Linked DNA regions of Homo sapiens: region 2 is linked to region 1. Evidence: fine-mapped expression QTL. A gene starts in region 1. The other region holds a variant in brackets. All regions are shown on one strand. Distances are from middle to middle. Region 1 holds the start of LINC02218 (long intergenic non-protein coding RNA 2218). Region 2 overlaps LINC02218 (long intergenic non-protein coding RNA 2218).

The links. PIP is the estimated chance that this variant, and not a neighbour inherited with it, causes the effect. A credible set is the group of variants that fine-mapping cannot tell apart.
Region 2: its variant is the best candidate, but not a certain one, in a credible set for the expression of LINC02218 in whole blood (TOPMed, PIP 0.61).

The regions. Positions count from the first base shown.
Region 1 is chr5:17,442,214-17,446,613 of GRCh38, forward strand. It overlaps LINC02218 (long intergenic non-protein coding RNA 2218), which reads left to right and starts at 1,797. Exons shown (of 3, transcript NR_134270.1): 1 at 1,797-2,021.
Region 2 is chr5:17,472,860-17,477,243 of GRCh38, forward strand. The region is part of intron 1 of LINC02218 (long intergenic non-protein coding RNA 2218); the gene reads left to right. Among named protein-coding and RNA genes, the nearest start is that of H3Y2, 17 kb to the right of the region's middle. The variant C/A (reference allele first, on the strand shown) is at 2,155.

The sequences.
Region 1 (4,400 bases):
AGTAAAAATTCCACACAAATAAATATGGAAAGAATTTTTACCTGCTCCTATAGCTTCCTTTCAGGGACCTGGCACCCACAAATGTTGGGTAACAGAAAGAGGACTTATGTAACTTAACTCAAAGCAGAAAAGTTACAGAGACTGTCTTAGCATAATAGAGCATGGAGTGGTCATGCTTGGATGTGCAAACTGTCTGATAGTCTTGCACATGGCTTGACCCCGAATTACACTAGTGGGGCAAGTTGCCTGGGGCAAAGCAAACTTATTGGACCCAAAGCTCTCATTTGAGAATTTTGTTGACTAAAAGTTATAAAATATCAGCAATTTCATATGGTTCAGCCTAATATTTTATCACTCTTCCTTTTTCTATTCTAAAACAATAATTTTTAATAACGTAAGCTATACACATACATGCTTTAAACATACAACACCCTGACTATCATATAGTGGATATTTCAAGAAGTAAATGTTCAGCATGTCTTCACCCCCACTTGAAGACATAATGTATGTATTAGGCTGTTCTGGCATTGCTATAAAGAAATACCTGAGACTGTGTAATTTATAAGAAAGGAGCTTTAATTGGCTCACGGTTCTGCAGGCTGTACAGGAAACATATTGGGTCTACTTCTGTGGAGGCTTCAGGGAACTTTGACTCATGGTGGAAGGTGAAATGAGAGCAGGCACCTCATGTGACTGAAGCAGGAGCAAGAAAGAGAGAGCGAGCAAGGTGCCACACACTCTTAAACAACCAGAACTCTCTCTTGAGAATTCACTCACTGTCTTGCCGTCAGCACCAAAGGGATGGTCCTAAACCATTCATGAGAAATCCTCCTCCATGATCCAATCACCTCTCACCAGGCCCTACCCCCAACACTGGGATTACAATTCAACGTGAGATTTGGGCCTGGACACAGATCCAAACCCTATCAATATATTAGCCAGATACTTGCAGCTGTATGAAGAATACCCTGGTTACCCAGCTACAAATGCAGATGTTATTGATAAGGGAGGGGGGCAGGGAAGTGCTGGGAGGAGAAAGCAGGTCTCTGGCGAGGGCTTCACCCCGGTGCCTGTGCCCACAGACCTAGGTAAGGGCAGGCACTCCTGCCTTTGCGCCCAAATGTTGCATTTCCCAAGACCACCCTGGCCCACCACGCCCCCATCCTGTGCCTATAAAAACCCCGAAACACTAGTGGGCACTCACACAAGCGGCTGGACGTCCAGAGGACGTCAACAAGAGCACGCCGACAGGCAGACCCTGGCAGGCCATCGACTGGCGGAAGGACATGGAGTTTGGCTGCGTGGTTGGAGGAGAGCCAGGCCGCTAGGTGGCCTGACTCCAGGAAACTACACCTTCCCACTCCATCTCCCTTCTGTCTCCCCTGTCTGCTCACAGCTACTTCCTCTCAATAAAACCTTGAACTCATTCTCCAAGCCCACGTGTGATCTGATTCTTCCGGTACACCAAGGCAAGGACCCTGGGATACAGAAAGTCCTCTGTCCTTGAGATAAGCCAGGGGGTCTAATTGAGCTGACTAACACAAGTCGCCTACAGATGGCAAAACTAAAAGAGCACCCTGTAACACACGTGTGCCCACTGGGGCTTCAGCTGTAAACATTCACCCCTAGACACTGCTCTTGGGTTGGAGCCCCACAACCCAGCCGTCCGCATGCTCCCCTAGAGGTTTGAGCAGTGGGGCACGGAAGAAGCGAGCCACTCCTCCTGTTGCACACCCTGCGGGTGGCGCAAGGGAACGTTTCCTGTTTCATCATCAGGGATATTGTATCGGTGTCTTAAATAACACTAGCATTTTGACATATTTGGAGCTGCTACTGGGCCAGCTCTGTTTCCAGGCCTGCCTTTCAATCTTTTCCTTGCTTCTGGCATGAGTTACCATCTCTTTTAAGAAATTGGTTATGCATTTGAAAATACACGTAGCTATACATACTTTAAACATATCATTTAGCAAGGATGCTCCTTATCGGACCGTTGCTGGGAACAGAGAACACGACAGTTCCAGGTGAGCGAAATAGTGTGATCTCATACATGATGAAAGCTAAGCAGGCAACAGCTTTTCCGTAAGCAAGCATTTCAAAATGTATTTGTAGAAAGGCAGTAAAAGAATAAGATGCAAATCAAGCTATTTTTAAACCATCGTTTTCAGGGCCAAGGAAGAAATTATGAGAATGAATTTTTTAAAAAAAGATTATAAGGTCTTTAGTGGTGTTTTTAGTTGAAGTAATTTAGAGATGATTAGGTATTGCTATTTTTTATTCAATTCTTTACAACAAAAGCTTACAGAAATAGAAAGCTTTGCCATTTCTTTTCCCCACAACTTTAAAAAGTAAAGAGTGAGTGTTGGGTCACAATAATCTTTCTTTTTTAGTCTCCTTTTTGTGCAAATTCATCCACCATCAAATTACATTGTACTCCTTCCTCCTCTGTGACTACCTGTGGAAGAATGTTTATATAAATAAACCCAAAGGCCTGTCTTTTTGTCTGTTGCTCTGAGTAAGTGGTGCAAAATAGATGCCTTAGTCTGGTGATTTGATTTAATACAAATGGACCTTGTTAGAACACTTCTTTACACCTGAGATATTGGGAGATTTACTTGTAACCTTCCTTGCTACGTGAACAGCAGTAGTATTTGCTGTTTCTAAGATGTGTTGTAGTTTGAAAGATTTTGTTTGTATCATGCCAAAGTGACTGCATTAAGAAGTTCCTAGTTGACTGATTAAAACAAAACAAAACAAAACTCCTTTAATCATTCAGCTGTTTGACCTATGCTAGTGTATAGGTGCTATACACAATTATATATTTTGATGCTTTCTGTTTTATTATGTGGCAGTGTGTAGTCCCAGTATTTATGCTAATTATATCGTTCTTTGGAATCCAGTTTTTCTTTTTGTAAATTTGGATTAAAGTCTATCATGGCTCCTTTCAAAGAGAGCACTAAATGTAAATGGAGGGTTCTTTGATACCATTAGAGAGATGGGACTGAGATCTCAAAGAAATAGGCTGCACTGGCTCTGGGGTGAATGGGTCCTATGACTTGTAGGGCTTCAGAGTAGGACACACAACTCTGGGGCTAAAGCTCAGGACATTGGCCATGCAGTTGAACATTTCTGCCCGTTCTTTCCTGGTCCTGCCCTGTGCAATTTCCAGCTTCTGTAAATACATATTGAAGGTATGTATACATAGCAAAGGTGTGCCAAAGTGTACAGTTGCTCAGATTATTTGCACACCTTGGTTTGGCCCTGGCCAGTTGAAGGAGTCATGAGGAAATACCTTGCTGCGATGACTTCTGTCATTCATTTCTCTGTGTATATTGGTACTAATTGATTTTTTTTGGCAGAGTTTAAAGTACTTTTGAACTTTTCCCCTTTCTTCTCTCCTCTGCTTCTTTTTCCAGACTGTTTCCAAGATTGGATGAAGAGATTCAATTGACAATGCTGTGAAGAGAGGGATTTGGAGCTTGTTGGGGGAGGTAGTGTTGACTTCCTTGTGCAATCTAGGATTGAGTGGGGGATGCAGTTGGAAGGCAAGAGAAGTAAGACTCCTCCATCTTCCTGGTCCAGAGAAATTATGCTGGATCCCCCTACCCTTAATGAGAAAGGAGGTGTTTGTGTTTCCAGCATCTATGAGATCTGATTGCTAATGTAGCTACCTTTAAAGAATTCTGCTATTTACAATAAAAGTGAGATCTCCCTCCTCCATCCTGTGTTACACAGCCTGGGATTGCACCGTTGTTCCTGGCACCTTTGCATTGCAGGAGCCTGCCTTTGACTTTCTTTCCTCTCCACACATCTTCTATTCCTGCTGCTTCTCTTTTCAGAAAGTGCTGAGCTTCTAGGCTAGTGTCCCTCTCAACGGATGAATATTCAGCAGAGAATGGAGAGCTTTCAACCGTAAGAATCAGGATGTGGCTGTTTATAAAGTTATTGCATTTTTTTGAAGAGTGGCTGCAATTAGTTTTGGTGTTAGGCAGCAAAAACCCCAAAATGTTCTTTCTGATTTCATGTTGCTTGCATAATACAGATACCCATTTACTGGAAGAAATCTTCATGGGTAAGTGTATGAGTGTGTATGCATAAGTATGTGTATGTGTGTGTGTGACTCCACATATATTCCTAGAGTGCCTTCTATGTGCCAGGCATGGTGTTAGTTGACATATGTAATTGAGAGTAAAACAGTCATGATCTCTGCTCTTAACCAATTTACAATCTAGGATAAAATAGACCTTCCATGTTCAAATCCACAATGACATTAATTGCAATATGATCATTGTTGTGCTTGAATAATAGCTAAGAAAAGCACAAAGAACTTACAAGGTGGCTTAACAGAAGAACATCATCTAGCTTAGAAGTCTGGATAGCCCCTTTCTAAGAAAGCGGTACGA
Region 2 (4,384 bases), 31 kb after region 1:
GAGTTCAAGACCAGCCTGGGCAACATAACAAGATCCCGGCCTCTACAAAAAAATAAAAAAAAATTAGCCAGGCATGGTAGTGCATGCCTATAGTCCCAGCTACTTGGGAGGCTGAGGTGGGAATATTGCTTGACCAGGGAGTTTGAGGCTGCAGTGAGCTATAATTGCAGCACTGCAGTCATCCTGGAGGACAGAATGAGACCCTGTCTAAAAAAAATTTTTTTTTTGAAATCTGTTGGTTAGAATGCTTCCTTCAGTGTTTCTATCAGGTCCCTCCTTAGTATCCTATACATATAATATAGAATTACATATAAAATACAAAAACTGGAAAACTTAAAAGAGATGGATAAATTCCTAAACACATTCACTCTCTCAAGACTGAGCCAGAAAGAAATTCATTCCCTGATCAGACTAATAACGGGCTCTGAAATTGAATCAGTAATAAATAACCTACTAACCAAAAAAAAAAAAAAAAAAAAAAAAAGACCAGGACCAGACAGATTCACAGCTGAATTCTACCAAATGTACAAAGAAGAGCTGGTACCGTTCCTACAGAAACCATTCTAAAAAATCGAGGAGGAGGGACTCCTCCCCAACTCATTCTATGAGGCCAGCATGATGTTCATACCAAAAACTGGAAGAGACACAACAAAAAAAGAAAACTTCAGGCCAATATCCTTAATGAACACGGATGCAAAAATCCTCAATAAAATACTGGCAAATCAAATCCAGCAGCACATCAAAAAGCTTATCCACCACGATCAAGTAGGCTTCATCTCCAGGATGCAAGTCTGGTTCAACATATGCAAATTAATACATGTGATTCATCACATAAACAGAACTAAAGACAAAAACCACATGATTATGTCAATAGATGTAGAAAAGGATTTTGATAAAATTCAACACTCCTTCATGTTAAAAACTCTCAGTAAACTAGGTAGTGAAAGAACATACCTCAAAATAATGAGTTATCTGTGACAGACCAACAGCCAACATTATACTGAATGGGCAAAAGCTGGAAGCATTCCCCTGGAAAACCAGCACAAGACTAGGATGCCCTCTCTCACCACTCCTATTCAATGTAAATTTGGAAGTCCTAGTCAGAGCAATCAGGAAAGAGAAAGAAATAAAGGGCATCCAAGAAGGAAGAGAGGATGTCAAAATATCTCTGTTTGTAGATGACATGATTCCATATCTAGAAAACCTCATAGTCCTGGCCCAAAAGCTCCTCCAGCTGATAAATAAGTTCAGCAAAGTCTCAGGATACAAAAATCAATGTACAAAAATCCTGAGCTTTCCTATATACCAACAACAGCCAAATCTCGAGCCAAATCAGAAAGACAATCCCATTCACAATTACCACAAAAAGAATAAAATACACAGGAGTATAGCTAACCAGGGAGGTGAAAGAATTGGCAAAATATTGTTCAATTACAAATTATAAAGAGAATTACAAAACACTGCTCAAAGAAATCAGAGAAGACACAAACAAATGGAAAAACATCCCATGCTCATGGATAAAAAGAATCAATATCATTAAAATGGCTATACTCTCCAAAGCAATTTACAGATTCAGTGCTATCTGTATCAAACTACCAAAGACATTCTTCACAGAACTAGAAAAAACTATTTTAAAATTTATATGGAACCAAAAAGGAGCCTGAATAGCCAAGGCAGTCATAAGAAAAAAGAACAAAGCTGGAAGCATCATGTTACCCAGCTTCAAACTATACTACAAAGGCTACAGTAAGCAAAACAGCACGGTACTGGTATAAAAACAGGCATATAGACAAGTGGAACAGAATAGAGAGCCCAGAAATAAGGCTGCACATCTATGACCATCTGATCTTTGACAAAGCTGACAAAAACAAGAAATGGGGAAAAGACTCACTGTTAAATAAAAGGTGCTGAGATAACTGGCTAGCCATATGCAGAAGATTGAAGCTAGACCTTTTCCTTAGACCATATGCAAAAATCAACTCAAGATGGATTAAAGACTTAAATGTAAAACTCAAAACTATCAAAACCCTAGAAGACAACCTAGGCAATACTATCCTGGGCATAAGAACAGGCAAAGATTTCATGACAAAGACACCAAAAGCCATTGCAACTAAAAGCAAAAATTGACAAGTGAGATCTAATTAAACTTAAGAA[C/A]TTCTGCACAGAAAAGGAAGCTATAAACAGAGTAAATAGCCAACCTACAGAATGGGAGAAAATACTTGCAAACTATGCATCTGACAAAGGTCTAGTATCCAGCATCTATAAGGAACTTAAACAAATTTACAGGAGAAAAACTAACAACCACATGAAAAAGTGGGCAAAGGACATGAACATACACTTCTCAAAAGAAGACCTACATGCAGCCAACAAGAATATGAATAGAAGTTCAATATCACTGATCATCAAAGAAATGCAAATCAAAACCACAATGAGGTACTATCCCACACTAGTCAGAATGGCTATTATGAAAAAGTAAAAAAATAACAGATGCTGGCAAGGTTGTGGAGAAAAAGGAACATGTGTACACTGTTGGTGGGAGTGTAAATTAGTTTAACCATTGTGGAAAGCAGTATGGTGATTCCTCAAAGAGCTGAAAGCAGAACTACCATTTGACCCAGCAATCCTATTACTGCTTATATACCCAGAGAAATAAAAATAATTCTACCATAAAGATACATGCACACAAATGTTCATTGCAGCACTATTCACAATAGCAAAGACAGGAAATAACCTAAATGCCCATCAATGACAGATTAAATAAAGAAAATATGGTATATATACACCATGGAATTCTATGCAGCCATAAAAAATGAGATCATGTCTTTTGAGAGAACATGGGTGGAGCTGGAGTCCATTATCCTTAGCAAACTAAAATAAGAACAGGAAACCAACTACTGCATGTTGTCACTTATACGTGGGAGCTAAATGATGAGAACTTGTGAACACAAAGAAGGAAACAATGGCCTGGCATGGTGGTTCACACCTGTAATCCCAGCACTTTGGGAGGCCAAGACGGGTGAATCACTTGAGGTCAGGAGTTTGAGACCAGCTTGGCCGACATGGTGTGAAACCCCATCTCTACTAAAAATACAACAAGTAGCCAGGCTGGTGGTGCATGCCTGTAATCCCAGCTATTCAGGAGACTGAGGTGCAAGAATCACTTGAACCTGGGAGGTGGTTGCAGTGAGCCAAGATCGTGTCACTGCACTCTAGCCTGGGTGACAGAGTAAAACTGTGTCTTGTAAAAAAGAGAAACCAAGAAACAGAGAAGGAAACAACAGACACTGGGGCCTACCTGTGGGTGGAGGGTGGGAGGAGGAAGAGGAGCAGAAAAGATAACTATTGGGTACTGGGCTTAGTACCCAGGTAATGAAATACTATGTACCACAAACCCCCATGACACGTTTTTACCTGTTTAACAAACCTTCACTTGTACCCCAAACCTAAGATAAAGGTTAAAAAAAATTCACTGGTCTAAATGCTTCCTTCAGTGCACCCATGAGGTCCCTCCATAGTATAAAATACACACGTATTGGCCGGACGCAGTGGGTCACACCTGTAATCCCAGCACTTTGGGAGGCCAAGGCAGGCAGATTGCCTGAGCTCAGGAGTTCCCGACCAGCCTGGGCACACAAACTCTGTCTCTACTAAAATGCAAAAAATTAGCCAGGCATGGCAGCATGTGCCTGTAGTCCCAGCTACTCAGGAGGTTGAGGCAGGAGAATTGCTTGAACCTGGGAGGTGGAGGTTGCAGTGAGTTGAGATCGCGCCCTTGCACTCCAGACTGGGTGACAGAGCAAGACCCTGTCTCAAAAAAAAAAAAAAAAAAGCTACATGTATTACATACACAATCACATATTGTATGACAGAGTGAGACTCTGTCTCAAAAAAAAAAAAAGCCACATGTATTAACATACACAATCATATATTGTATGACAGAGCAAGACTCTGTCTCAAAAAAAAAGCCACATGTACTACATACACAATCATATATTGTATAAGATAATTTATATACAATTTTATAAAATATTAAATATATTACATAAAATAGTATTGTATACTAATATATATGAAATAGTAGTATATACATGTAATATATAATATTTGGCAGTATTTAAATGCTATGGGATAAAGACAATAAGGAGAAAATGGCTAAAAGATAGATATACATGTATATGTACATAAATTTCAATATGTTAGCATATACATATTAATATGTTTGATGTTATTACTGTGTACTAGTATCTATCTATATTTAGCTTGTTAATAAATATGCTTGCTCAAGACTAGATTAGAGCCTTTGTTAATTATGTTGCTAAGGCGCTCTTGCTTTCCTCTGATACCCATCACCAGGCCGAGCTTCAGTTTATTTCCAATCACTGTC